2 separate regions of the Homo sapiens genome follow, and region 1 is linked to region 2. The links come from fine-mapping of genetic effects on gene expression. A gene starts in region 2. The other region holds a variant in brackets. All regions are shown on one strand. Distances are from middle to middle. Region 1 overlaps MCTP1 (multiple C2 and transmembrane domain containing 1). Region 2 holds the start of SLF1 (SMC5/6 complex localization factor 1).

What was found. PIP is the estimated chance that this variant, and not a neighbour inherited with it, causes the effect. A credible set is the group of variants that fine-mapping cannot tell apart.
Region 1: its variant is the best candidate, but not a certain one, in a credible set for the expression of SLF1 in monocytes (Fairfax 2014, PIP 0.71).

What each region holds. Positions count from the first base shown.
Region 1 is chr5:94,742,986-94,758,605 of GRCh38, forward strand. All of the region lies in intron 19 of MCTP1 (multiple C2 and transmembrane domain containing 1), which reads right to left. Among named protein-coding and RNA genes, the nearest start is that of SLF1, 130 kb to the left of the region's middle. The variant T/A (reference allele first, on the strand shown) is at 7,678.
Region 2 is chr5:94,612,191-94,627,810 of GRCh38, forward strand. It overlaps SLF1 (SMC5/6 complex localization factor 1), which reads left to right and starts at 6,479. Exons shown (of 21, transcript NM_032290.4): 1 at 6,479-6,575. It overlaps KIAA0825, which reads right to left and starts at 6,414. Exons shown (of 21, transcript NM_001145678.3): 1 at 6,310-6,414. RefSeq lists enhancers at 5,428-6,292, 6,031-6,210, 6,521-6,700, 7,091-7,200.

The DNA of each region.
Region 1 (15,620 bases), 130 kb after region 2:
CAATAGAGGCATAAGAAAGGTGGGGAGATGACTAACCTAGAAGCACGGAAGACTTCATAGGGAAAATAAAATGTGATTTCCTAATCTACCAAAACAGAGCAATCAAGTACGAACATCTAATAAGAATCTAATGAAAACACTGATGTAACCCAATGTAAAAAAAAAAAAAAAAAAATCTGGGGGATTATTCACTGGCTTCTCACTCCTATTTTTCTATAAATGGGACGAAGCAAGAATTGGCTATACTAAAATTAACCTAAAAGCTGTATTTGGAGCAGTATTAAATGTTGAACTTATTAGCAAATCTGCAGGCTTATATTTCAATTCAATAAAAAAAAAAAAAGAGAGTCTATGATATGCCAAGCACTGACTCCATGCTAGAGAGAGGAAAAACACAGCAGAGAAGACAGAAATAAAAAAGGAAGCTTGCAGCCTCACGAAGGTGAGATAAGAGAGAAAGTGAAAAATGCTTTATGACAGGTGCCAACAAGGAGCTATCCGACACAAACGGAAACGCCTGCACAGGCCAGGCTGGGTGAGAGCATGGGGCCCATGGAGAGGGCATCCCAGTCATCATGGCCATGTTGGAATCCAGGCCCAATGTTGCCAGAACTTTCCGTCTTTCAAGAGAAGCTCAAAATCCACATTTTTTTTTTTTTTTTTTTTTTTTGAGATGGAGTCTCCCTCTGTCGCCCAGGCTCGAGTGCAGTGGCGCGATCTCGGCTCACTGCAAGCTCCGCCTTCCGGGTTCACGCCATTCTCCTGCCTCAGCCTCCCGAGTAGCTGGGACTACAGGCACCTGCCACCACACCCGGCTAATTTTTTGTATATTTTTAGTAGAGACGGGGTTTCACCATGTTAGCCAGGATGGTCTCGATCTTCTGACCTTGTGATCTGTCCACCTCGGTCTCCCAAAGTGCTAGGATTACAGGTGTGAGCCACTGTGCCCGGCCAAAATCCACATTTTTCCATGAGAGCTCTTGATTTTTCTTGTTCTTTTTCTGAGTCAGGATGTGGCTCCATCACCCAAGGTGGAGTGCAGTGGCACCATCACAGCTCACTGCAACCTCTGCTTCCCGGGCTCAAGTGATCCTCCCACCTCAGCTTCCGGAGTAGCTGGAACTACAGATGCACGCCACCACACCCAGCTAATGTTATTGTTTGTTTGTTTGTTTGTTTTGCCATGTTGCCCAGGCTGGTCTCTAACTCCTGGGCTGATCCGAAGTGATCCACCCACCTTGGCCTCCCAAAGTGCTCGGATTATAGGCGTGAGCCGTTGAGCTCAGCTTCTCCTGATTTTTGAAGACTGTTTTAAAATCCTGTCCACAGCTGAATTCAGCCCCTTAGCTGCCAGTTAGCAGCCTCTGTACTTCTAAAATGCACAGGGAGCAAGGAGCAAGAAGCATGGATAACGGACTAATTAGATGGACAGGGGATTTAGCACTGGATTCAAATCCTGCCCTGCTGGCGTTATGCAAACTTGGTCAAGTTCTGAAAATGGATCTCAGTTTTGGTTTCACTAACATTTTTTTTTTTGAGACAGAGTCTTGCTCTGTCACCCAGGCTGGAGTGCAGTGGTGCCATCTCAGCTCACTGCAACCTCTGTCTCCCAGGTTCAAGGGATTCTCACGCCTCAGCCTTCTGAGTAGCTGGGATTACAGGCGTGTGCCACCACACTGGGCTAATTTTTGTATTTTGTATTTTTAGTAGAGATGGGGCTTCTCCATGTTGGTCAGGCTGATCTCGAACTCCCAACCTCAGGTGATCCGCCCGTCTCGGCCTCCAACGTGCTGGGATTACAGGTGTGAGCCACCGCGCCCAGCCACCAATAGGTAGTTCTTGACTGGATTACATCCCGAGATTTGATACCAAGACTAAAACTGTGTTCAGCTCATTTCCCAAAATACAGTAAGGGGCTTTAACATTGGATTCAAATCCTGCCCTGCCTGTGCTGTGCAAACTTGGACAAGTCCAAGGGCACAGCCTTAACACAGCATTTCTTGTCAGATAACCATTGCTTTTAAGATGGTTGAAACAACAAGAGAAGGAAGACTCCAGAGTAGTCCTATGACATGCTCCCACCCACAGAGAGTAAGAATGTTTCCCAGCCACTTCTCATGACCATAGTTTTCTTACTGGATACGCCTGAGTGCAGCAAGGTCTAAGGGGAAGTTTAGGGCTTCAGGTTTGAGGACTTGCTTAATAATGCCTTTCTGTCTATAACCAGTATGCCCACAAGTGAACAAACCTTTTCCCAAAATGGGTCAATTATAATGTTCTGGGTGGAGATTCCATAGCTGCTCCACAGCTCGGAGAGTGTGCTCTTTGGTGCAAGATGTGAGGAGGGATAAAGGAGCTGCACTGGCTTTCCTGTTCTCTTACAGAGTGTCCACTTGTTTCCATTTCTTCTGGGAGAATGGGGAGGAGGCATGTGTAATACATATATTTGACTTCTTTTAGCCTCATTTTCACTTTGTCTCTTTTTGTCTCTTATTCCCATTTTGCAGATGAGCTGGTAGGGGTAGAGGGCAGTTAGGCGATATGAAAGAAAGGTGGAGAGGAAAGAGTCATTTTACTGTTCTCCATTTGAGTATCTTCAAAATCATCAGGTATTCTTGCAGAGAAAAATTAAGGGAGGCATCATTATATTTATTTCTAGTGCCTAACACTGAGCCTGACACATAGGTGCTTAATAGAAACTTGAAGAAAAATGTGTTGAAGAAATAAGTACTCATTGAAGAAAAACATATTTACAGAAGAGAAGCAGCACAAAGTGCTCGGCTGCAAGCAACAGAATATTCTAGTAGTAGATTAGGTAGTAGAGTTAATTTTCCTCATGCAATAGGAAGTTCAGAAGTCAGGTTATTGATATTGTACCAGATGTTCAAAGTGATCATTTGGGCCCTAAGAACTTTCTGTCTTTCCATTTCTTCATCCTTATGTTTATTGCCTCATGGTGTTAATATGGCTGCCCCAGCTGTAAGCATTGCATTCACATTCAAAGGTAGATGAGAGGGGGAAGGATGGAGTCAGCAATATCTGTCCTATGTTATCAAGAAAGTAAAAAACTTTCCCAGAAACCCCCGGAACACATCCTTTTCCAGCTCTTTGGCCAGAACTATATTAAAGAGTCATTCATAGATACAATGAAACCTTAGAAAACTGAGGATTTAGGCAGAATCTTTGTCATTATGTACAAAGTCCGTCTTCCATTAGCAAGGGAAAATGGGGAAATAAACACTGGGTAGACAATATCCGCCACACTTGACTGGAGCCCTTTCTGCCTCCTACTCCTTTCTGAATACTCAAATGACTCACAGCCCTCTATTAATTCTTTTATGTCATTTATTTCCCCTCCCAGATTGAAGGCGTTACTCATGTTTGACTCATTTTCTCCTATCTTTTACACGGTAAACCCCTAATAAGTGCTAATATTATGAATGTTTTGAGATATATGTAAAATGATGCTCTTTAAGTAGTTACAGAAAGAATAAAAACCATGACTTCATTTGTATATTTGTGCATTAGCTACTACTCCATTTTAAATACAGTAGGTAAAGTAGGCTTAAGTGAAATTTTACAAAGGGGAATAAGAACAAATATAAACAACAAATATAAGACATTTTTATAATGTAATAGTGCAGACAAAACTGAAATTCATCTCTTTAAAATGAACTTAATTTCCTGTTTCTTTGTCTTCTCATGCATTCCATGTCATAAAGATAGGTAAATTATTCTAGAAATACTAATATTTTTCAGGTTCAGAAAACTTCAGTGGATCTCAATGCACATAAGAAACTGTCTACATTCCTTGCTCCAGTGCTCAAAACTCCACAACCTGGTCCCAACCAACCATTCTTACCCTGTCACTCACAACTCTTGCGTCAGTATATTTTGCTGTGGCTAAATTCTTCTACAAACTGCCCTCTCAAGGCCTCTTGGGAATTCCACTTCCCCTTGACCTTGAATACCTTTAAGTTCCTCTTTTGGCTTGTTTGAATCTGACTTAGCCTTCAAAGTCTAGCTCAAGTATCAGGTTGATAATTAGATAATGTAGGTTTCCAGCTTTTTTTTTAGGCTGGAGATACAGTTTGCCTTTATCCATATCTTCTGCCTGTACTGGATTTTGTTATTTCAGTTGTCCAGGAGTTCTGTGTGTGAACTGCCATCTTTTCTGTTCCATGTAATATCGTAGCATAGCACGACAGCAGCAAGTATTTTTTCTGTAATGGAAAACTGATTGCTACAATTCTGACAATGGTCATGCTCACCATTTTAACAGTTATATAATTATATGTTACCTATCATTTCCTATGTAGAAACTGTATTAAGAACCATCATTTAATCCTCATAATCTTATGAGGCAAGTATTATTTTTGTTCCCATTTTGCAGATGAGGAGACAGAGGAGCTATCTCTTGGATAGCTTCCAATTCAGAAGTAATTTTTTTTTCTGTAAAGGGCTAAATAGTAAATATTTTAGGTGTTCCAGGCCACATAATCTGTGTTGCCGCTATTCACCCCTTCATTGAAAGCATGAAAGCAGCCGTAGATAGTAAGAAAACAAATGGGTGTAGTTGTATGCCAATAAAACTTTATTTACAGTTGGCTGAATTTGGCCTGTGGACTGTAGTTTACTGACTTCTGTTCTAGCCCAAATAATCCTTTTCATATATAAAGCTAAGAGAGGTAAAGTCCAGATTGCAACAGAGGCGGATCTAGAATCGAGGTCTTCTGATTGGTGGGTTAGTGGTCTTTAACTATTATACTAACTGGATGGGGGTAATTATTCTGTAATAAATTGAGCTTCTGAAATTATAAGGAGGCCAGGCATGGTGGCTCACGCCTGTAAACCCAGCACCTTGGGAGGCCAAGACAGGTGGATCATCTGAGGTCAGGAGTTTGAGACCAGTCTGGCCAATGTGGTGAAATCCCGTCTCTACTAAAAGTATAAAAATTGCTCGGCGTAGTGGCGCGCGCCTGTAATCCCAGGTACTTGGGAGGCTGAGGCAAAATAATTGCTTGAACCCAGGAGTCAGAGGTTGCAGCGAGCTGAGATTGTGCCATTGCACTCCAGACTGGGTGACAAGAGTGCAACTCTGTCTCAAGAAAGAAACCATAAGGAAGTTTTGATACTATTGACAAATTATACTGTTTGACCCAGATGATTAGGTTTCTGTAATTTGATGTGGGTTTTATTCCATCTTCTGTGTCTTCCAAAGGTATGTGGACTTTTAAACTCAGTTTCTTCATCTTTTATAGGAAAGCATTTTCCAGACTAGATAAACACATGCCAGTTGCATGTACAGTTAGGACTCAGAGCTTGCTAAAGAGCACAGGGTGACGACTGTGGAACTACTGAAACATTGTCGAGACAGCAGTCCGTTAAGGCTTCTCAGAGTAGTTCTGAGTACATGGCTCCCTGCCAACTTTCTAACCTGGCCCCCTAGTTTACCAGGAAACATTTTGACATGGTTAAATAGGTACATACATCCTTTGTGGCTACAGGACAAAACCCATGATTGCCTGATCTCTTTAGTCCCATGCTCTGAAAAATTTAGATTCAAATCTTTGACTGGAAATAAAATTTCTGTGGGGCAAGTTTTTATTCTCTGATCTTTGTTCTTTCTATTAATAGACTTGGAATGTAATGGAAAATATAGTTAACATTGCCTTGCACATTTACTTTTTGAGCATAGTTATCAGCACTCTAAGTTTCTCGATTGTCTCAGGACACTGATGATACTAATAGATTCCAAAAAGACTTTCTTGAGCCAGAAGCACTGTAGCACTACATTTCCAGCTCTCTGTTGAGTCTTCAAACTAAGTAGAAAAAGAGAAGCAAATTGAACCTCATATATTTTACTATCCAAGAGGATATTACCTTGACTGGACACGGTGGACTGACTACACAGACTGGCCACCGTCTGCAATAGCGCTCAATGCAATTAGAAGCCTGGGAGATGAGCTGACACTAGAAGGTCAAGAAATACAGTTTTGTTTTGTTTTTTGATGCTTCTGCTGTAATTGTGGCCCCAGAGCATTCTTGTCCTTGACTTATGTGATGATCTGAAGTTATGTTTTGATTCTGAGCATCTATGTCTTATTAGGTTATATGCATCATATTTAAATAACTAGACAAACCTTGAAAGTTCAGAATCCTCACCAGCCTGTAAAATTTTTGCTAGGCCAATCTATCATCAAGAAGACTACAGAAAAAAGTATTTCCTTTGCACAGACAGATGTACCCTTTGCTGTGGATGACTCAGCAAAAAACACCTGCAATAGTGTCTTATTAGGTGGTATCCCCTGGCACTTAAGATATATGCAACCCTGTGCCCTGGAACCTACTTTTGAAGAATGAAAGAAATATTTAAAACATCTTATCGGCCAGCTGTGGTGGCTCACGTCTGTAATCCCAGCACTTTGGGGGGCCAAGGTAGACAGATCACCTGAGGTCAGTAGTTCAAAACCAGCCTGGCCAACATGGCGAAACCCTGTCTCTACTAAAAATACAAAAATTAGCCGGGCATGCTGGCATGTGCCTGTAATCCCAGCTGCTCAGGAGGCTGAGGCAGGAGAATCACTTGAACCTGGGAAGTGGAGGTTGCAGTAAGCTGACATCGTGCCACTGCACTCCAGCCTGGGTGACAGAGCAAGACTTCATCTCAAAAAAAAAAAAAAAAAAAAAAAAAAAAAAAATATCAAGGCAGTGGAAAATGAGCTACTTTTCCCAAATTTCAGAATCTATAGTTATTGGTATTAAGTGAATAATGAAATTCAGTGATTCTCCTGCTAGAGAACATCTCTAAAGCCTTGGGCCAAGAGCTATAAATACATTTTATCAATGCTGTAAGGTAAGCACTGTTACTATATCCACTCCACACATGGAAGCAATGAGGCTACAGAGAGGTTAAGCAGTTTACCCAAGATCATTTAGGTACCAAATGAAGCTGGGATCTAAACTAAAAGAAGTCTGACTCCAGAGCCCGAAAAACTATTACTTCAGTCTGTACAATCACTTGGTAAAATCTACGTCCTTTAGTAGAAAACTTGCTGAATGAGAAAGAGAGAGAAGAACTTGCTGAATGAGAAAAAGACAGAAAATAGCATATTCCAGTCCCTTGTTCCCTTTCCCTAGATCAGTGCTGACATATTACAGAGTACATCCCACCTTATGCTATTGTTTATGCCTAGGCAGTCGCAGAGGGAGCTACCCGCCACAAGAACCCGTGATCATATCTCATCATTGCTGTTCCCCTAGTTACCAAAGTCTGCACTTTGCTTTTGTCATGTTATTGACGTACAGGGGGAAGCATTATTTTCTCAATGGTTCAAATTACATATCTGGGGGGCAAATGAAACTTGGTTTTTATTCTCATTCTCTCCTTTCATTATTTTAGAATCATAAACCTACTAGACAATTGTATAATCATTAAGGTCATATACAAATATTCTGGCCATCTCTTTTTGGGCTTGTAGTAGGACTGCACTTCCTTATCTGCTAAAAGTGACTTGCTCTGACCAATGAAAGGCAAACAGAAATGGTCTATGTCTCTTCTAGGAGGAAGCTTTAAGAGCCAGTGCTTCTCTTTCCAACATGGTGACTGGCAGTATTTCAAACAGCAAAACATTTGAGCTTAGGGCTTAACGTGAGGGTGACAACAAAGATGTGGCA[T/A]GAAGTCCCCTCTGCCCATCCTGGATCGACAGATAGTATAAGCAAGAAAAAAGCATTGTGGTCTTAAGCCCCCAAGACTTGCAGTTATTACTGCAGCAAAACCTAGTCATCTTGACTGGTCTATTCTTACAGAAAATACTGATGCCTAATTCAAAGCAGCAACACAGAGAATATGGCAAAAGGGGATTAAGCATCTGGTGATTGTGAAGGCCATCGATGCTGCCAGCTAGCAGGAAATATCCAAGTCTTTCCAAAAGGACTGGGAGTAGCATACAAAAAGGAAATGTCCCCGTCATCCAGAACCGAAACCTGGGCAGGATTCCTTTGGAAAGAGAATTGTGGACTTTCTAATCCCTGCAACTGACCCAACAGTCCCCATATCTCTCCTATATGCCCTTAAACAAGAACAAGCACACCTTGAATGCAAGGTGGAGGTTTTAACTAAATACTGGCCGGGCTGAAGTAATCACTCAGAAGCATAATATAACTTTCCTGACAGAGTGATAAGTCAGTAGAGCGACCAAGGGCCTTTCTCTCCTTTTCTCCTTTAGTAATAGAAAAAATGATGCTATGAGTTAGGGGTTTAAACAGAAAGAAACTGAAATCCATGACAGTGATGACTTAATAATATTGCAAATTATAGTTTTTAGTTCAGGTAATTTAGCATACCAAATCACAGTTTAATTTCCTTCTACAGAGCCCAGGCATATGAGATAGTGTATGAGAGAAGGGGCAAGGTGGGGTGGAGACAGGGGGTGAGGATGAGCATGAAGAAAAAAAATTCTAAGACTTCTCAAAGGCAGGTGACCTTGAAAGCCTAATAAAAGTGACCTGGAGAATGTAAATGGCAGTTTATTAATATGTGCGAGGGCTATAGCCCTGACCTCCGGGAAGCTGAGTCCTTGCTTCCTTTTGTTCAAGTGCTTGCTTCTCCTGCCTGGTGGAATGTGAGGATCAAGTGCCCAGAAGGAATGCATAAAGCGTACAGAGCCCTGACAGCTGTGAAAGAATGACTTTGAGAGTGTCAGCAAAGCAGAGCCGTTGTTGAATGGCATGTGTCCTTGATTGCGCACAATGCTGCATGAAGGAACAGAGAAGGGGGAGCTGAATCACTTAATGACTTGTCTTTTGTTCTAGGATCAACGTTCCAGATGAAATAAGCCACGATTCTCGATCCATACTTACCAGTCGCCTTACAAAAAACCAAACACCGCATGTTCTCACTCATAGATGGGAATTGAACAATGAGAACACATGGACACAGGAAGGGGAACATCACACTCCGGGGACTGTTGTGGGGTGCAGGGAGGGGGGAGGGTTAGCATTGGGAGATATACCTAATGCTAAATGACGAGTTAATGGGTGCAGCACACCAGCATGGCACATGTATACATATGTAACTAACCTGCACATTGTGCACATGTACCCTAAAACTTAAATAATAAAATATATATATATATATATATATATATATATATATATATTCAAAATAGCTTCCTCAGGTAGGTGAATTATCTCACCCGGCTGAAACAGTGTCTGCGTGTTTGGCAGGAGAGTCAGGGAAGAGCGCTTGTAACTGGATTTTATCCAAAGTGGTTACCTGAGTTCTAACAATGACAAAGTGGTGAGGATGAGCCCTCTGAGCTAGCTTGGGAAATACTAGTTGTTCAACCCTTTCAGTATTACTCAGCCAAACTGCAGCTGATCAGCTTGACCAAATGTTCGCCAGAGTATCCTGAAATAAGTATGCCCCTTGTACATACCTAAGTTCAGAGGTTAAGGGTCAAATAGGTAGGCTGAGTTTGCAAGTGCTTGAAGCTAAAATTCTCAAACTCAGGTGCCTAAGGACCACCCAGTTAAAACAATTCCTAGGTTCCACCTTATTGAATCAGAATCTCTTGAAGTGGGGCTAAAGAATTTGTGTTTTAACTTGGTTCCTAGGTTATTTTGAAAACTAGGATGTTTTTTTAAAAAAATCTACTCAAACTTACCTGAGTATGAAAAAAGAAAATATAACCCTTCATAGACATAAAAAGCACATAGCCATAAAAAGCACAAACACAAAAACATCCAAGGAAACAAAATTCAGTCCAAAGACTTCATGTAAGTAGAGATCACATAGTACTTATCATCCAAACAGGGACACCTCTGAAAGTGAAAGCTATTGATTATAGCAGGATAACAGGTGTAAACAGGGACTGTACTCTGTAACTGGGATTTATGGTCATCTGAATTCTAAGACTAATCTGGGCAGGAAAATTGTTTGGGATTTAGGCCACTAACACAACAGAAAGCCCTCATCCAAGTTTTGAAGTTTAGCAAGAGCTGCAAATATTTTGATTAGGAGGGCTATATAAACCATAAACCCAGAGGATCTTGTTCAGGGGTTCACTGTGGCTTGAAGTAGAGCAGGATGAACTCTCAGGTCCTAATTACCCTGACTGAGAAGAGACCAGTAGAAACTTTGACCCCACAGTGGAGGAGTGCATATGGCAGTGACATTTATCCACAGCAACTGCAGAAGTCAGTCTTATGAAATGTAAAGGATTGGACCTCAGAGATGGAGAGAGAAGAAACAAACCAGGCATTATTCTACTCCCTACACTTATCTTGCAATTTCTAGGAAACACCTTTTCTCCTAAGTTTTTAGTTCTCTAGTCATGCAGTTTGCACAAACCCCCTAAAAATTATTGCCATATAGCTTCCTATTGCCTTCCGCCTCTGGGGAATACTGCAGTATTCTTATAGGGAAAAGGAAGAATGGGTTGCGCATTTTCATTATTCATTGGATGCAAAAAATTCATCGTGTAAAGGTTGTTTTAGAAGTGCAAAACAGCTAAATGAGAAATCATGTTATTGCTAGGAAATTTCATTTATTTCCTTTGTTGTAATAATGATTGTGGTGTGTAGTTGCTTCTGTAATAATTACAGTGATGCTATTGCACATTTACTTTCAGGTATCATTTTCATTTTAAAATTAATCTCAAAATATAGTGTTCATTCAATTATGCCTCTCTTAGCAAACAAACTCTACTCTGAGCTCTAAACTACCCAGTATTGAAACTACCTTTTTAAAATGGGAGGACCAATGAACATGCATATGCAGAAGGGCCTGGATCTTCACAAAGTAACTTCTCTTCTAGAAATTATACTTCAGGTAGACTATGCCTCTTCTGTGTTCAGTTGCCAGTGCATGGGGTGGAAGGAAAGCGTAATTGGTGCACTGGCCCCCAGGAGAAAAGCAGTATCTGAGGAAACATTGAAATAATTACAAAATATGTGTTTAAAAGAGGCATGGTGATAGTTACAGGAGAAGGGAAAGAGAAGGAAAGGAAGAGAGAAATCGCTCTTAGATGATTATAAAATATATCTTATTTACCTGAGAGAGTTAAAGTGTATTGGCTATGCTTTTTAAAAACGGGTCTTAATTACCCTTGAGGCCAGAATTCCATATGAGATAAATATGTTTTTAGATAGTTTTCTAAAATATGTATAATTTACTCAAGGAAAAAAGGACTGTGTCCTCTGGAGCCAATCCAGCCTCACAGGTAAATACAAATTTAAGTAGATTCCTAAGAAGCACATTATGAACAGTGGCTGATGGAGTGGAATGTCTGTGAAGAAGCTGGGAAGGTCCGTCAGTTAAGTACATAATAAAAATGTATTGGAAAAATACATCATTTCCTCAGTGGACTATAATTGGCTATGCATAGTAAAAAGTCTTATTTTCAAAAATGTATTCTGCATCCACAGAGTTTTAAATCTCAATAACCACGTTATTTTTAAAAGTCAGAATGCTAAGCAATATTAGTGAGAGTGGCAGAAGAACCACATGGTAGATGTCATTCTGCAATTTACAACTCTTTGACATCTTCTTTTTCTTCTTCTTTTAAAGCAGACTTCATCCAAAGCCATAGGTAAAAAGTTAAAGAAGATGGAGGATCAAAATTCAGCTTTCTTTACTAAACAGTCCGATCAGTCTTTTCAGAAGTGCCAAAGTACGTTTAACTTTAAAAGCATATCCTTTTTTTATTATCCAGGCAGAAATTTCTGGTATAAACAAACAAGACAGACAGATGTAAAGGTCCACAGTAACACAATTACCTAGGCCTGCCATTTACACCTTTCCCCATCCCACTGATTTTGACCTTTCCCTTGCCTACCACCTCACCGTTCTCCCAGCCCATCCATTCGGTTCTGGCTTCACTTGTCTCCTTCCCTTGCAACCTATAGGGATGTTGTTGGACCTGTCTTTATGTTCTTTCTGTATTATCCTGTTTTTATACAACTCATTCTGGGCTGCCAAGCTGTGGACTGCCCGTTTTGGCGACCACACATTCCTGGTGTGTCATGCAGCCCCAGGGAGGCCTTGACAGTGACTTGGGCATTTGTCCATTTGGCTCATGCTGACTGGCTGTCACAGTCCTCCCAGTCCTCCCACTTTCTCCAGAGCCTCCCATCCTAACATTCACACTCATAGCAGGTGACCATTTCTTTGTTTTTCCTGAGAGAGCTGAGGCCATGTGTGCTTCTTCAACACCTGTGCTCCTCACCGGGAGGATCCCCAGGGAGCTTCTTCCCTGACCCCTTCCTTCTGCCACTGCCATCACTTCTGAGACCCTGATCCTCCCCTCTTCTAGCTCTGGATTCCTCCTTCCCCACTGATTCCTTTTAAAGAGTGAGTGACCTCTCTAGTATTAATACTAAAATGAGCCCCAAGGTCCTTCCAACTCCTTAATTCCCACTTTCCTCTCTTTCCCCGCTTCAGAATCAAACCAGCTCTCAAACCAGAGTTCACACCAGCTGCCTCTCATTTGCCTTCTGCGTTCTGCTCTCACCACACTAGGGAAACTCCGAGGACCACGACCACAACTAATCCAATCACCAGCGTTCATGACTTTTTCTTTAGTGCTCATCTTCCATGACCATTTGACATACTTCATTCTAGCGATATATTTCTTAAAACATGTGGTTTCCATGCTTGGGACCCTTCGGATTCCCCTCCTATCACTCTGAAGACTCCTTTTCAGTATATGTTCTGTTTTTCATCCTCCCGTTGCCCTTTAAATAGATGCATTCTCCACAGAACTGTCCTCGGCCCTCTTCCTCTCATACTCAACTTCCTCTGCCTCTGTAATAACTTTGTATCTCTAATGGGTAATTCTCAAATTTAAAAGTCTCTGCTATAACCTCTTCTTTGAACTCTAGATTTCTACTTCTACCATCTGCTAGAATACCTTATTCGATGTCCTGGTGACATTTCAAACTCGACATGTTAGAAACAGAAGTAATTTTTTTCCCTCTAAAATCTATTCTTACTCAGACCTTCTGTTCCATTTAACAACTTGACAATTTTCCTGGGCACCCATGGCCGACAGTGATGCTGCTAATGATTATAACAATAACAATATTATTACTCCTATTAGACCTAGGAAATTCCGACAACAGCCAGACCTTGTTCTAAGCTTCACTAAATATACAGTCATTTAATCCCTACAACAACCCTATGAGGTTGGAACAATTATTAACCCCACTTTGCAGATGTGGTAACTGAGGGATAGAGGTAAAATTTCTTGCCCAGCATCACATAGCAGCCTGGTTCCAGAATCCATACTCTTAACCACTATGCTCTACTGCCTCAAGAAGTCTTCAGTGATTGTTGGCAGCAATTGTAAGATGTGTTATAGCTGACAGTAGCTAGAAGGTGGCTAATTTGAGGTCTGTGGGATTTGACATTAGGTGGTGGTTATGGGAATGAAAAGGAGAGTGACTGACAGGAGACGGTGGAGCTCTATGAAGATAGGAACTGCACTCAACGAGGTGTCATCTATAGCATTATGGGCACTGGCTGTGTCTCAGAGGCTGGTGAATAGGCGATAAGAATGAATTATACACATAGAAAGCCGAAACTCCCTTTTTCTACCATTCTAGCAATAGTAGATGCAATTCCGGTTAATTACGGGAGGTATAAATATCAGAGGGGAGATGACAAAGATGTTGGCAAAATGAGATCCTTTGACAGCCACTTTTCTTTTGCTAAAGAATACCCAGCACACAACTATGGCTACTTTGAGTGATTATGGGACTCTGATGCCTGAATTGCTATATTTTATTCATATGTATCCTTCTATTCTTTCAATATTCAATCAAATGTTTACTTTTTGTATAGGATTGTGCATGTTATGTATTAAAGTACTCAGTTCTGATTACTAGAATTTATGACTTTTTTTTTGTGGAAATAAGGTATGTGAAAGCTAAATAAGATCATGAATAAATAATACCTCAAGGTCATAGGGCAATATGGCATGCTGTTTTAAAGTATGGGCTTTGGAGTCTATATAGAACTCGCTTCTAATTTCGGCCTTTGTTTGTGACTTTGGACAAGTTGCTTTGTCCTCATCTGTGAAATGTGAATGACAGAACCTACCTAATAGAGTTGTCATGAAGAAGAAATGAGATAACGCACATCAAGTCCTCAGCATAGTGCTGAGCAAATAATTCCATGCACATGGGCGTACACAAACACATACAACTGAGTATTACTCTGTGTTCTGAAGGGGACTTCCTATTGGCTGAAGCGTTTATTGGGTGGCAGGAGGCAGATTTCAGCTGAGTCTTAAAAAATGGATGGGTCTTAGATAAACGGAAAGAACATTTCATATAGATACCAAGGCAGACCTCAACAGAGGCTAAGAGGAAGGTGCAAAGTAAGAAATATCACAACAGCAAAGTCAATAGAATTTTGATTACAAATTACAGACAGAATCATCAAAGATGATTTGAGTTTTTATGTCTTCATGATTAAAATAATTGTGCTACTGGTAGAAATCCATTAGCCATGAAAGGAAGTTAGTTTTAGAGGAAGAAGACAGGTTTAGAGCGAAATATATAGAATCTGAGGTTATGATGGGACAATTTTCAATGTCTAAGAGGATGGAAAGAGACAACAGACTTGAGACGAAAGGCAGAAATGGAGATTTCTAGCTCCTTGAGGAGTTAGGTCTCATTTCTCTTTAAATCCCTCAGAACAGCTAGCATAGTGCTTTGAACATTCCACATGCACACTGCTTGTTGCATGGATGGATGAATAAGTGAATAAAAGTAAAGATTCTGGAGTTCTCTCCACGGAGGAGATAGTTAGTCTCCAAGGAAGAACAAAACAGAGAGGTACCCAAACATCAGAGACACAAGAAAACCAAAGTGTTAGAGTAAAGCAACAACAACATGAGTGCACAGGGAAACAGAAGGGGATATCAAATGGTGGTCAAGGGAGTCTTGGGAAACAGGCACTGCCAAGGAGGAGGATCAAGTGAAGTTATTAATGTCTTCAGGAAACAAGTTTAGTAAGGTGTTATAGATGGAGGCCTCAAAAGAAAAAAATGAGATCCAACAAAAGTGGGGAGTAAATGGAGGCAACAGATGTATGTCTGAGATTAATAGCAACTGAAGGAAAAGAAAACTCACTACACTCTTTTCTAAAAATGTGTCACTATATGATACACAGACTAGACATTTGTCATAGGTACTCAAATATTAAGTGCACATATGCATGAATATATGAACAAATGGATGAATTGAATAAATAATTCATATTTGATATGAGAAAAGTACTATATCTTGATTTCTTGTTTCTTAATTAGAAAATCCCTCGCTGGATGTGGTGGCACATGCCTATAGTCCTAGCTACTTGGAAGGATCACTTAAACCCAAGAGTTCAAGGCTGCAGTGAGCTATGATTACACCACTGCACTCCAGCCTGGGGGACAGAGCGAGACCCCATCTCTTAAAAAGGAGAGAGAGAAAAAATAAAAATAAAGAAAATTCCACCTTCATTTCTGTGCTGTGGGTATGTAAATAGATGCAAAAGCACCTGTAGGTAACGAAGTCAGTCAACTCTTACAAGACAAAAACTGATTTCTTTTCACCATATTATTCTTTTACCT
Region 2 (15,620 bases):
TGGCAGTAGGGATTATACTTTTCTTGAGGGCAGGAGGGGGTGGCACAGGGAGTAAAATTCAAGATTTGAAATTCAAATGTATTTGTAAGTTTTAGCAGATGACAACTGTTGATCATTTTTACTAATACCTAACATTGAATACCGTGGCAACATGGGATTCCTCTAATACATGACTTTGGCTTTTGGACTCTGCACTGGCCTAATTGAAGCTTTCTTAGAAGAGTGTAGCACTTTGATATTCTTACTCAACTCTTCTTTCTTCCTTCCTTCTCTTCTTTTTAGGCTGTCAGACGTGCATTGAGGCCTGAAGGCATTTCTTTCCTACTCTCACTCTCCTTCATTCTTCACAAGCAGTCTCCCCAATAAACATCTTGTACATCTTACCTCCTCTTGGCATCTGCTTTTTGGAGAATTTGAACAAATAAAGTGCCTTACTACACCAGGCACCATATTAAACTCTATACATGCATTATTTTATTTAATCTTCACAAAAGGCCTATGAAGACATCATCATTCCCATTTTACAAATAATGAAACAGTGGAAAAGTAACTTTCACACTGTCACACAACTGTGACTGTCACACAACTGTGACAGAGTTGGGATTCAAATCCAAGTCTGTTTGACTTCATAGTTAGAGCCACAGACCCTAATTTAAAACAGTGAGTTTATTAAAAACAAAACAAAACTAGAGACCTTAATAATTTTTTTCTGATGCTTGTGTACCTACACACAGTATTACATTTAATCCTAGTAAAGTTGATAGTATTACTTTACAGATGAAGAAATTGTGGCTCAGGGAATTTAAGTAACTTCTTCAAGGCTATCATTATATGTTCATGAGTTTAAGCTCAACCCCAGGTCCTCTCTGAATTCAGTTGTTTACATTATACTGCATTGCCTAATTAGTCAAAATGACATTGTCTCGTTTTGAACTTTTATAGTTGTTAAAACTTTTTATATGGGATGTATGTATTTCAAGGGATGCACTAAAGTTTGACCTTGTCCTCTGTATTTTTTTTGAGAGAGAATCCTTCACTCTGTCACCCAGGTTGGAGTGCGGTGACATGATCTCGGTTCACTGCAACATCCACCACCCGGGGTTCAAGTGATTCTCTTGCCTTAGACTCCAGGAGTAGCTGGGATTACATGTGCCCACGACCACACCCAGCTAATTTTTGTATTTTTTTGGTAGAGATGGGGTTTTACCATGTAGGTCAGGCTGGTCTCGGACTCCTTGTCTCAAGAGATCCGCCCGCATTGGCCTCCCAAAGTGCTGGGATTACAGGCATGAGTCACTGCGCCGGCCAATCTTGTCTTCTGTATTTTAACAAAGTCTGCATTTGGCTTTAGTGTTGGCTTTTAGAAAGTAAATAGTCAAAAAGGCCAGGTGCAGTACCTGTCATAAAAGTACTCAATCTAGGGAGGTCAGTAGGGGCTGAATCCAACCCATACTTTGTTGGCCCAGCCATGTGTCCCTGCAGGGCTGTTGCCATAGAGAAAAAGATGCCTTTTTCCAATCCTTACAAAAGTAGCATCAGTTACACAGTGTATATCCAAGAGTTATGGATCCTCCAGAAGGGGGTGCCCTTTTCTAATCATACAAGGTGCTATAAGGGCTAGCTGTGAGTCAGGAGGACAACGAGGTGAGAGGGAGGCTAACGCCTCATTATATACCCTTTCATACCTTATGAATTTTGCACCAAGTTTCAATTAAAAATTTGATTAATATGGCAATACATGTAAGTATTATATGTGTTCATATCCTGTGGGTGACCATTTCTCCTTCTACAAATTGTAATAAGAAAATAGATACGAATATGTCTAAATATTTTACTATAAAAACCTTTATTGTACTATTACTTAACAGAAAGAAGTCAGTTTAAAAGTTATAACATATTCATAAAATTGAATAGCATACAGGCCCTAAGTATTATTTTATAGAAGCAAATTTATTGACATGGAAAAATTCATGGTATAGCACATTGAAAAAAGCAGGTCACAAGACAATATAGACAGTATTATTTCATTTTTATTTTAAAAGCACATATATGCAAATCTGTAATACAGAGAAAAATCATAAGTTATTTCTGAGTGGTGGGGTCATGGGCCACTCTTCCTTTCTCTTTCCTTTTTGGCATATTTGTACACTCTAATGTTTCTGTAACAAATGGGCGTTTTTCCATAACAAAGAAAACAAATGCCAACTCCATCCTCCACCCCATCCTAGTTATACACACAGATTATTGCTTATCGTTAAAAGCCTAACATCTCTAACTTGCCCACAGTTATCTACAGCTTGTCCTAAACTCAGCTTTTTACCTCAGCTTTATTACCAGCCTTCATCCATCTTACATAGCCAAAGTGACCTAGGTACTATTTCTGTTTTCTGACACCTTTGCATCTTCCAGTAGAACACTTGTCCCTCTTGTTCCCCTGCCAAAATCCTTTCCATCCTATATGGCACAAACTCAATATTACCTTTTTTATGAGGTCTTTCCTCATCTGCCCTCCTGGAAAAAAAAAAATCTCTTTTCTTTGCATTCCCATGTTTTGTGTTCAATGATGTATGTAAATTGCCCTACATATAATTATTTGTTTATATAACTTTCTCTCTCCTAGTAGACTGTAAGTGAAAATATTCTTCACCTTTGTCTAATTTATAAAGCATTTTTCATATCCACTAATCTTTTATCCTTGCAAGACTGAGCAAGAAAAAGAATCAATATTTATTTATCAGCAATTGTGTATCAGACAACACGTTTGAGGCTTTATAAGTCAACCCACTTAACGCTCACAGCAATCCTATGGATCCATTTTACATATGAAAACATAAGCTCACAAAGGTTCAGTGACTTATTAGTGTCATAGCTGGTAAAAAAAAAAAAAAAAGCATGGCTGTGATTTTTTTAACTCTATTCTTCCTATTGCAAAAACATGATTGTGTGTCCACCAATGTGGAAGACGTGAACACATATAAAAGCTTACATAAAACACATCAAAATTGATGAGGGTTTTCTGGCACTCCAGAACTGCTATATTCAGATAATACTTAGGAGTCAACTAAAGTCAGAGGATTTTTGAGGTAGGAGGGACCTTACAGATAATATAATCCATCAAACTCCTATATGTTATAGATGAGAAACATGATACCCAGAGCTTTTGCACACATTTAGCAGCTGAACCAGGATTAAAAATTCAACTGGAGGCTAGCAAAGTGGTTAAGATTATCGCTTTTGGGATCAGAGCCCTTCATTCAAATCATAGCTGTGTTTAATGACTATGCGTAACCTACGACAATTTACAAAGCTTATCTTTGCCTCAGTTTTAGCATCTGTAAAAGGAGGATAATAATACTTACCCACTGTGCTGTAAGGAGTAATTTAACACTGAATAGCAGAGAATAAACACAGAAAAATATTAGATATTCTCTCATCTCCTGTCTCACAGTCCAGTCTTCTTTGCAGGACAGCACATTGCCTTTTATGAATGAGTGTGGAGTGGACACTGTATTTCAGGGGCAAGGTGAGTAAAAATAAATATTTATTTATGTGGTAAATCCTTTAAAAAATGTACAAATACTTCTCGGTGGATAAATAACATTTTAAAAAGGAATCATTCATTCAATAAATGCTTATTTTTTATTTTTTAGAGACAGGGTCTTACTCTGTTGTGCAGGCTAGAGTGCAGTAGTATGATCATAGTTCACTGTGACCTATGTTTATTTATTAAAGGAAGTATAGAACATAGTAAAAAGAGCCAAAATTTAGAGGATCTGGATTCAAATCCTCTTGCCTTAGCCTCCCAAAGTATTGGGGTTACAGTCATGAGTCATGGTTCCTGACTTATTTATTGAGCTTCTATTACACGCCAGGCACAGTGCTAGATGCTGGGTTTGAGATGACGAACAAAACAGACATAATCCCAAACTTCATAAGCACTGAAATTTGATAGCAAAATATCCCTGAGATCTGCCTACGGGATCTGCCTACAAGTCAATGCAATGTAATCAAATACACATTAGTATTTCAGGCTAGCTATACCTATACAGTTGTAAAACAGGATATTCTTTAGAATTAACTTCTATGTCATTTCTAGTATTGGTCATTTCAACTAAATTTTTGTAAATTCTCTGAAAATTAGGCTATTTCTGTTTCTCTATATAGAATTGGGTATTGGGATGGGCAGGTTTAATAAAGCATATTCCTGAAACTATGTGATAATCCCCATCTGTTTGAGGGTTACGTGAGTGGAACAGCACAGTTTTGCTAATAATTCCTTATAAATCATTACAAAGTTGAATTTTATGAATTTGTGCTCATTTACTCATTCTTTCTCCCTACACACACACACACACATGCACACACAAATATACATGTATACAAATGTGTGTGTGAAAAGCTGTCTAAAGAGATAGTTAGCTGATACTCTGGACTCAGTCACCAATATGCTTGCTGATGGTCTCCAGATCTTCTGCATTTGCCCCAAGTGTTATGCTAATGTACAGTATAGGCATTTGTTTGAATTAGGATAATAAAACTGGCCAAGGATAAAGGCACTAAAGAAACTGCATTATTTAGATGTCAAAATTACCTTATGGTGATGAACACATCCCTTAAGTCCCTTTTATCCTCAAGTTTTGCTATCCACTTGATTTCTAAATGTGACATACTATCTATCCATTTTTACCTGGAGTGAAAATAATGATACTGTTATGTTTACTTATAAAGGTATAGAGCACAGTAAAAAGAGCCAAAATTTAGAGTCAGGTAGACTGGATTCAAATTTTAATTGTGCCATTTAATTGTATAATTTATGGAAAATCACAACCTCTTTGGGTCTCAGTATAAAATGTTTTGCAAAATAGAAATAATACAATTTTTGTGATTTTCTTTTTTTATTAAACATTAAATAAAATAATAAATGTAAAGTGCCTGGCAGACAGTATCTACTTGGGGTAAGTATTAATGATTGGCTACATTCAAGAGCAATTCAAAGAGAGAAATCACTGCCTCTAAAAACTAGTTGCTGTACAGATATAATACATAATATCCCTGAAGTAATTTATAATACTTTCAACTGGAGAAATAAAGAAAAAATACAAGATTCAACAAAATGTCAAGATTGGGATTAATGGGGCGATTATAAGTTTGTTGAATTATTAACCAACAAGGCCAGAAAATCAATGTGCTGTCCTAAATATGGTTTGTTGCATTACTCTCAAAAGGTTAAGAAGACACTGGCCTGGTGTTAACAGGGGCCTTGAATTGAACATATTGCATTTTTCTTTATCGGTATGCTCCGATAAAGAAAATGTTTTTATGGGTATGAGGAGCATACCCATAAAAAAAATGCAATAGTACCTACAACTCTTTCGGGAACTGACTGTTTTGAAAAAATAACAGTCAGCTGCCTTTTACGGGGGTTGGTGGGGAGGTAATTATCTAAATATAAGGTGGCAAGTGAAAACTAGTTACCTAAGAAATTGCATTACTTAAGAGAAGTCGCCAAGGTTCACTACATCACATCTTTCAAATCTTAAATGAGCACCTTTCCTCACATTATCCCTTTGTCGGAAGCAATTTCTCTTTACAACTATTCTGGCTACCTCAGACCTCCATCCAAAATTCTCCTGAATCCTTCATTATCGACAAAGCCTGGAGCAGAACGCAAGCATTCCTTTCTGAAAGCACACATACTTACTGATCACTGCTTTCCAAAAATGCATCTAATGCCCAAGCATGAAATTACAAGCTTGTTCTCTTATGTCTCAGCCATGAAAACAAAGACCGTTCTTCTCATCCAATTCAAATGGCGGGAGGAACCTTCAATTAATTCTAAATCAGGAAGGAACCTCCCCATCTCACTTCCTAAATGTTTGTAAAAGATGTCTTCTTCAGCCAACCTCCTGCCTTCCAGGCACGGCACCCCAGAACTACGGAAACAGTACTCAGGAATCAAGAGTGGCCAAACGCTGCCAATGGGAGATAGGAAACTCGTTGATCATTGGTAGAGAAACTCGGCACAACGCCGAGTCACGGTACACGGTGTCTTCGGCCTCGCCCAGGGACACTTGGTGACCCGAGGTCGAGTTCCAAGTCGGAGACAGATTTTGCGAGTGGATAAGACGGTAAGCCGGGATCCCAGGGCCTTCTCCAGCTGCACTGGGTGTCAAGCGCCACGGGGTTTGATGGGGACTCCTTCTGGTTCCACCCTCGCCCACTCACTTCTCGGGCTGGCCATAATGCTGCACAGAGCCCCGGCCAGCCATTAATATCAGGCGCAGGAGAAAACCCAGTAAAATCACTTACCAGTCTTCCACCTCCGGTGCTGATCTAGCAAGAGCCTGACCCGCTGGCCAGACTCAAGCTCTGCACCAGGTATTACCACCCTGGCGACGGCTCCGGAGCGTCACTGACAACCACCCGGAAATGGTACTATCGCTTCCGGGGCTGCCTAGCGCGCGGCGGGAAATTGTTTCCCAGAGCCCGGATTCGTGAAGCAGTTGAGTGCTGCAGCGGCAGTCGTCGCCCCTGCCGCCGCTGCCACCGAAGGAAGCATCCCAGACACCGGGAAGGTAAAGGGGCTCAGCTAGGAAGACACAGTGTATTCTGTCTCTGTGGGGATGTTTCTTCGCCGGGCGGTACCTCCGAAGTTTCTGCCTCCCGGCTGTGAGGCTAGGAAGGAAGCGGCTGGGGTGAGCGGCAGCGGTGTCTGGCTCTCGCGCTTTCTCCAGCTGCAGTTCGTTCCAGCTCTCCCGACTTCGCGCTCGGCGCCGGAGTTGGTGGGCTGCAGCTGCAGACCCCGCGACGCTTCGCCCGTGCCGCTGCGGGGACTGCCACCGAGCGCCCCTCTGCAGTACTGGGCTGAGCCACTTCCCCCGCTTCTGCTTGCGCAGCTCTGCCGCTCGGCCCGCCGCCTGGAAGGCGCTAGGCCCCCCGCGTCTCTCGTTTCCATAGAACCCATGGGGACGCCTCATCCTGATACCAGAATTTTGGCTGCTTTCCATAACTTAGCGTCTGCGAAGGTGGCTGGGATACCCCAGGCCCACTTTCCTGTGACGAAGAAAATTGTGTCATTCTTTCCTCTCTAGTAGAATTTTTTTTTTTTAAACTGCTAAAACGGCAGTGATCCTATCTCTGACTGCTATAGGCCTTTAAACACAAACATACACACATACACTTTTCGCTGAAGGGAGGGTCTGTGTTCCTGGGGTTTATATTTCAGCTGCCTGAAGGCTGGAAACAAGACTGAGTGGCTATTTTAAGATTTCTTCCACTTCCAAAGCCTCAGATTAAATATTGACAAAAAAAAAATTGGTCCGTCTCGGGTACTTCATATCATTATTTGACTCAGGAGTTAGATGGAGCTTGATTTTGGAGGCGCCAGCCTCTTTTTTGACGAATGACTTTATTAAAAAATTTTGTTGTTGTTGTTGAAATATTGGGAATGAACATTTGAACTGAATTTACAATGTATGTGTGACAGACAATGCACCTTGTGGACTTTTTGGTTTATGTTATTCCGTTGTGCCTCAATTCTTGGAAATACCTGTGGATGTGCAAGATGTTCTCATTATTGGAAAGTTTGATTACGTATATTGCAGGTGTTCAATACCTAAGTTGCTAGTATGAGGTGAATTTATATTAAAGAGTATATTTCTTTATTTTCTTTTCTTACCTTTCCTTCCTTCCTTTGCTTTCTTTCTTTCTTTGACAGAGCCTTGCTCTGTTGCCCAGGCTGGAGTGCAGTGCCTATCGGCTCACTGCAACCTCCGGCTCCCAGGTTCAAGCAATTCTCCTATCTCAGCCTCCCGAGTAGCTGGGATTACAGGTGCGCGACACCACGCCCGACTAATGTTTTGTATTTTTAATAGAGACAGGGTTTCACCATGCTGTCCAGGCTGGTCTCGAACTCCTGATCTCAAGTGTTCCGCTCGCCTCGGCCTCCCAAAGTGCTGGGATTACAGGCGTGAGCCACCGGGTAACTCTTGAGTATTCTTAATTTAAAGGAACTAGGATGTTCAAATACTTGAATGTTTAAGTCAATTTTATTGTAAAGACAGCGAACCTTCAGTACTGCAAATAAACCCCTATTCTGTTTTCTAAATCCAGATTTTATTATGCGTTATTAAGTAAAATTGAATTATATAACCTAACATTTTCTTGCTTCCCTAAAGCATAAAGCGTGGATCACGTGAAAGTCATTGAAAAGATGATCAAATGTGGTTACTTTTCATAATCAAAATTCAGAACTGAAGATTTCGTAATAAGCATCCACATTTTCCACTGATGTTCAAAAACATTGCGTTTTGGGAAACCAATAGTATAGCTTTTATTTATTAGTACTTTCCTTATTATATGTATCTTGATTATATTACCCTAAAGTAGGGTTTTCACCATTTAAATAAAACTTTTTTAGAAAGTAAAATAAAAAATTCTGTGTTGGCTTTGAATAATAAACCCTAAACAAAACGAATTCTCTCAAGAATGTAACTAAAATGAGACATCATCTGTTACTCTTGTAGTTGACTCTTTGAATATACTAATAGAAAATATATCTGTATAATGTACTATGTACTGTTTTTCACCTTATAAGGGCATGTTACTGCTTAAAAGTAAAATAACCCTGGAACTTTTAAGTTCACTTAATTCATACTTTCTATCAAAATTACTTTGAAATTTAAAATACACTGTCTGGTTATTTTTGAGGAGGAAGAAAGACTTTCTCATATGAATCACTCTAATGATTGATACCAAATCACTTTTGAGAGGAAAATAATGAAAACTTTGTTTCTCATTAGACAAAAAGAGCACTCTTTAGATTGTTTCTAGAAATGCTTTGAAATTTTAGGCACTGTTATTTTACTGAAAATAATTTATAATTATGTTTAAATTTTTTCAGTGATATTGCTGTTCTAAATGTCTTCCCACCCTTGTACTGTTCTTTCACTTAATGTATCTTTCTTTTGTGTTAGCTGAAAGTAGATTGCTTTATGAAATTATAATGTGGTTAAAAGTATTAGACTAAGTTCTGCAATTTAATTCACCTTGGTATTGTAGAAAAGGCATACAGTTTTTGCAGAAAGACTTATATGTGCATCTTGTTTTTACCATTTACTAGCTGTGTACCCTTGAAGTAGTTTCTTAATCACTCCGATTTCCCAGTATCCTCATCTGCACAAGAAAAATAAATAGCACTTATGTTGTGAAGAAGGAAATGAGCTAACATATATACTGTGGTATAAACCACAGTAGGTCCTCCATAAAAATTAAATCCTGCTTGTTCAACCTTAGACGTATGGTCTTCCTTCTAAGTAAACCAAATTTCCTAGGATACCAAAGCACATTTGACTTCTATGGCTAACCGATATCTACTGTCCACCTATTCTTTTTCTGAACCTTTCCTCTCTTGACCAACTTGCTTCCTTAAGGACTCCTTCATCCCGAAATTAACATCTGCCCAGCCTGTGCCTTGTACAGTACTGGATAGATTGGACATCTCCGTATGTCCTCCTAAGCTTCTCATTTTTTTCTCACCATATTCACTTTGGGGCTTGTTCTGTTTCTTCCTTCTAGCGCTAAATTTGTCATCAGAGGGACTAATTACTGCTTCTTTCCCAAATAATGCTATGGAAGTAAGAACAGCCCTCAAGTCTCATCACTGGATGCTTCTGTCAAATAATTAATATTTATACACACACACACACACACACACATACACACGTGCGTGTGCATCTCTCCTATCTTTGAAGGATGGGGCAGGAAATAGACACTGTGTCTTTAAAAAAAAAAGTCTGAAGGCCAGCTGAATGATATTAAACCAAGGGCCTAATTTGGCTCCTAGGCCTAAAGGGGCCAGAATTTCTAAACGCCACTTGTAGTTAAACGTCAAACAGTATTTTATACACACAGTATAAGTACTGTGACATGTGTCTACCTTTTGCAATATTGGTTCAAACAGAGATCCAACACTTGGACCCTTTTCAGTTTTAACAGTTATTTGTTTACTTTCCCAGTTAAATGTTTTGAATAAGAGAAATGAAAATTTTTCAGACTGTTTAATTCAGAGCAGAAATCTTGACTGCATTCAGTGCTTGGTATATGCTTTTCAGATGAGGGGAGTTTCAAATAATTTTCCTTAGTTTGCTGTAAAAGTAGGTTTAAAATCAAAAGAATTCACCAAAATAACAAACACTGAGAAACCACTAGTTTTCATCATGACCTTAAAACCATGAAGAGTATTAAGTGGCATGGAAAAATGATCACAATATAACATTACATAAAAATGAAGATATGAAACAATGTAATATCCAAATTTTGTTATATATATTTTTTACACTCAGATAAAACCTAAAAGTCAACATCCCTCCCCAGTGTTAACAATGGTATTACAGGCTGAAGGGATTAGAGATGATTTTAATCTTTCTATATACTTTGTAATATTTTTCAAATTTTCTATAATAAGTGCATGTTAAAATTGAAAGACAAGTCTGTAAAGGTTATTTTGGGGGGAAAACTTTAGTTCTTAAATATAAATATATAAATCAAAGTTTTTTTATTAAGTCTTAAATATTTATTTTAGCTAATGATACCATACAATTTATTTCTAAGATTACTTCTCTTTTATGGGTAGGGCTGGTTATAAAAGAAACCAGCCCTATATAATGTAGAGTAGGGAAAAGTTTATCCTTATTTTCCTTACAAAACCCCATTTATGCATCCCTGTCTCTCATTTTTGTAGCACCTTCCGCTTTTTCCCAAGGGTTGTACCCTGCTCTTTCATCTTGCCTCTCAAACCAGACTTTTGTATTCATATCTGTATTCCTGTCTTTCCTTGTCTCTGAGCTCAATTTTCAACATGTTCTTCAAACATGTTCTAGCTATGTGTTACATTATAAAGAATTCAAAGAACCTAAAAAGCTAGTTTATAATAAATAGTGTTCTTAATTAAGATGAAGAGTTCTATAAGTTTTCTTTGCATTTTGGACTGGCACCAACTACAAAGGAATTTCAGGCATCAAGAATAGGCCCATGTGGGAGATATTTTGGGAAACTCCATACCACAGAGACAGTTGCTTGCTATGCATAAAGGCCAACTCTGTTTATAGTCATTGTCTCCTTAGTTGTATTTTATTGTTCAAGGTAAGTAACTAATTTTTGTTAATTATAGATAAGATTTTAATAATTACTACAAAAGGACATTTTCTCATAACCAAGAATGTCATATAATTTTAATTTTTTTGACAGTAAAAATAAAACTTAACTGTCAGAAGTCATGCTCTCTTTTTTGCTTTTTTTTTCCCTCCTTTTTTTTGGTGTTAAGATAGTATCTTCTGTATGAATGCTCCAAGGAACACCCCCTATTAGTTCTAGAAAGATCTATAATTTTTCTAAAAATAACCACTGGTACAATTATATTATGGTATATTTACTTTCCTTCTTGTGCTGCAAGACTTCTAGAAGTTAGCTCTTGATCCTCCCTACCTCAGACATATCACTTACACTAAACTTGACTGTACTTTAAAGGATTTTTAATTGTCTGGGTTATTGATATATGTTAAACCAATTATAGTGCTCTTTTTGGCCTCATTAACATATCAGGTTTATTGTATTCTTAATCCTGCAGGGTCAGAAAGAACCATCAAACCATGAATTTTATAAATAAATCAATCAGTATATCTATACATGTTTATATCTATTCCTACATATATAGTTTTCCTGTGTAACTGCATGAATTAGATCCTGTAATACAGGTCATTCACTTGTCATATCATGTGCTGTAAAAAAGCATTGCTAAATGTATTATAAACTGTTGTTTCAAGTAGATAATTTTATTCTAGAAAACTGTTACAAAACTGTGCTAGTTATTTTGGGCCGTCACTGGGATTCCTGATTCTGTTAAAGTTTAGCTAGTAGCTCAGTTTTTCTGATAAATTTGTGACTAGAATGTCCTGTATTCTGATTTGTCTTTAAACATATCCATATTTTATGGATAATGTTTGAATCAGGACATTCTGTTTTTTCACCTTTGTTTCCTACTTCCCTTTCCTCCGCATGTTTAACTTCAGTTTCATATTTAATCATTTTCAAAGGAAATAAATTGCTTTAAAAGGCTTTCCTGATTTCTGCTATTATGCAGTTAGTCCTATTTTCATTTTACTATGGGCTCTTGCTTTGACAGAAAATGCTGTTAAATATACAAAGTGGGTCATTTCCATCATATTTATTTTATTATAAAGACCATATGGTTTAAGATGAAAACTGCTTTACACACTAACTCCAGTAAATCCAAATAATTTAATAATTTATACATGAAACCAAAATACATTAAAATGTTACCTTATTAATAATCAAATTGTAAAATAGCTATTAACATGATCTGGAAACAGCAACATAGTATATGTTTATTTCTGTATAACTTGTTTAATTCTGAGGAAGCAGAATAATAAAATTTAAAGGACAAGCTTTAAATGAAACTTTTGGGTAACAGTGTTATAACAATTTTTTTATTATTTTTTGTATATTCCGATTATTTAACATTAGTTTTTATACGTCAATTTTTAGAATAGGCAAGATTTTAGACTTTTTAAAACCACCCAGACTTCTTTGGCAATATTCCTGAAATAGCCATTAAATAGACCTTGAAACTCTAAAATACATTAAAAATATACAAGTAGTAGGAAAAGCATATGTGTTTAAAACTCTTGTATTCCTCGGCTGGGTGGGTGGCTCATGCCTGTAATCCCAGCGCTTTGGGAGGCCGAGGCAGGCGGATCACAAGGTCAGGAGATCGAGACCATCCTAGATAACACAGTGAAACCCCATTTCTACTAAAAAGACAAAAAATAAAAAAATTAGCCAGGCTGGTGGTGGGTGCCTGTAGTCCCAGCTACTCAGGAGGCTGAGGCAGGAGAATGGCGTGAACCCGGGAGGCGGAGCTTGCAGTGAGCTGAGATTGTGCCACTGTACTCCAGCCTGGGCGACAGAGCGAGACTCCGTCTCAAAAAAAAAAAAAAAAATATTAAACAATAAAAAACTCTTGTATTCTACTGATAACAGTGGTTTTTGATAAAACCAATTAGATAAAAACAAGTATTGATTGAATACCAAGATGATATTCACAGATATATTGGATTTCACTTGTCCAGCATTTCTAAAAAGACCTATCATTTTCTTTTTATTTTTTAATTTTATTTATTTATTTATTTTTTGAGACAGAGTCTCGCTCTGTCACCCAGGCTGGAGTGCAATGGTGTGGTCTCGGCTCACTGCAACCTCCGCCTCCTGGGTTCAAGCAATTCTTCTGCCTCAGCCTCCCGAGTAGCTGAGATTACAGGCACCTGCCACCACACCTGGCTAATTTTTGTATTTTAGTAGAGATGGGGTTTCACCATGTTGGCCAGGCTGGTCTCGAACTCCTGACCTCAGGTGATCCACCCACCTTGGCTTACCAAAGTGCTGGGATTACAGGCGTGAGCCACCATGCCCGGCCAAGACCTATCATTTTCTAAAGGAAATTTGCTTAAAGGATTTAAAGAAATAATTCCCTAGAAATAATGAAAGCATTTCTCCCTAGTTGTGGACATATGTTTTATAATCCAAATGTGGCTTTTTTGTGTGTGTTCATATGTGTTCTGCATCAGACTAAATCATTATTATTTCTAACAACAGCATATTCTTCATAGTTTTTATGTATTGCTGGTCCATATTGTTAATGGTTATTAACATTCAAGAGCTACATTAATTAACCCATGTAAATGGTTTTAAAAAATTGTATGATTAGGTCGGGCGCGGTGGCTCACGCTTGTAATCCCAGCACTTGGGAGGCCGAGGCAGGCAGATCACAAGGTCAGGAGATCGAGACCGTCCTGGCTAACACGGTGAAACCCTGTCTCTACTAAAAATACAAAAAAAAAGCCAGGCCTGGTGGCGGGCGCCTGTAGTCCCAGCTACTCAGGAGGCTGAGGCCGGAGAATGGCGTGAACCCAGGAGGCGGAACTTGCACTGAGCCGAGATCACGCCATTGCACTCCAGCCTGGGCGACAGAGTGAGACTCCATCTCAAAAAAAAAAAAAAAAAAGTAATTGGATGATTAATACAGTAAAGGGTTCCTTATACAAGAAGCTTGATTTATTTACTGATGATAGTGTTTCGTGTATATGATTAATTTTTCATAAGAGACCAATCCCTATTATGTGCACTTAAAAATTTTATACTGACTAGACCAAATCCCTGTAACTTTTTTTAAAAAGCATTTATTTCATTGGAGAGCCTTATCTTTAAGGCACTTTCTTATGTTCTGTATCTGAGTTTTAGAGGGTTAAAATACATTGTACCTCTTTGCCCCTTTTGCAGCCAGTTGAGAAATGCAAAAATCAGATAAATTGAGGTTGAAATACCAGCTTTTTTATTGAGTAAACATTGTTTTGAAGGAGATGATGGTTTTTGTTTTGGTTTGTTTTTTCTGCATCCTTCTGCAAGAAGGAGATAGTTTTGATATGGAACCATAGTGTGCTTCTTAGTACATAACCTCCGAATTGACTTACCCACACAGGCAGTGCAGGACTACTACTGGCAGCTCCTTAGGATGTGTCAGAAAGCATTGATATGGACCTTCTTTGCAAATATGCAGATACACTGAGCAAAGCACATCCATTTAGTTGTCTCAAGGAGCTTCTCCAACGAAATGGGGAGTGATGAAGGGTAGAGAAAAACCAAGAGTGCAGTTACCCTAGCTGAACTTCTCCTCTTCAAAACTATAAGCAAGGAAATAAAAGTTCACTTCTGAGTAATGCTTTAGATTATATTGAGACTTTCTTTCAATTTTTACTCTTAAATGAATCTCAACCTTTAAATAAATGTATATATATTACATTTACATGTCTTTAAAAATAGACTCTCTGTGAAGAACATTTCTCACTTCACCAGTTGCGTGCTATTAGTCCTGGGCTCAAATCGTCACAGTTTTTAAAGTTTACTTGTAATTGTATTGAAAGAAGTCATTGTTTCTTTAATTATTGAAAACAGCTACTGTTGTTATTCTAGCTATGACATTAGTTAAATATTAATAACCCACAGTTATGGTGACAAAATTGTTAGAAAAATGAAAAATTGCCCTAATTTCTCTAGTCCCTGCTTTGCTTGTCTGTGGAAAGATTGAGATTTTTCTCTAATACGCTGTCTAGTTCTCCAGTTCAACTTCATGTAAACAAACAGAATTGTATTCTGATGAGAAATTCTGTGAGTTATGTACTCCCTAAACACAAAGTACTTTTTGTGAACTACATTAAAATATGGATTAAGGTCCCTATGAAAATAAACTTAGATTTTTTTTAAAAAGTGATTTTTTCCAAAAAGTGATTTTTTCAGTCTACCTTGTAAATGATGAAATTAACATATATATATATATATATATATATATATATATATAGCAAAGTTAAGAAATATGGATTGCAAATAGGATCTAGGATTATTATGTGTACCCACTTTACTAAATGCTGTGAGACCATGAGTTCTATTAACTTCTCCAGTAACGTATACATATTTAATATGTGTCCACAGAGACTTTAAAGTCTCTGTGGAGTATAAAATCTGATTGTATCATTGTCTGTAGGTTTCAA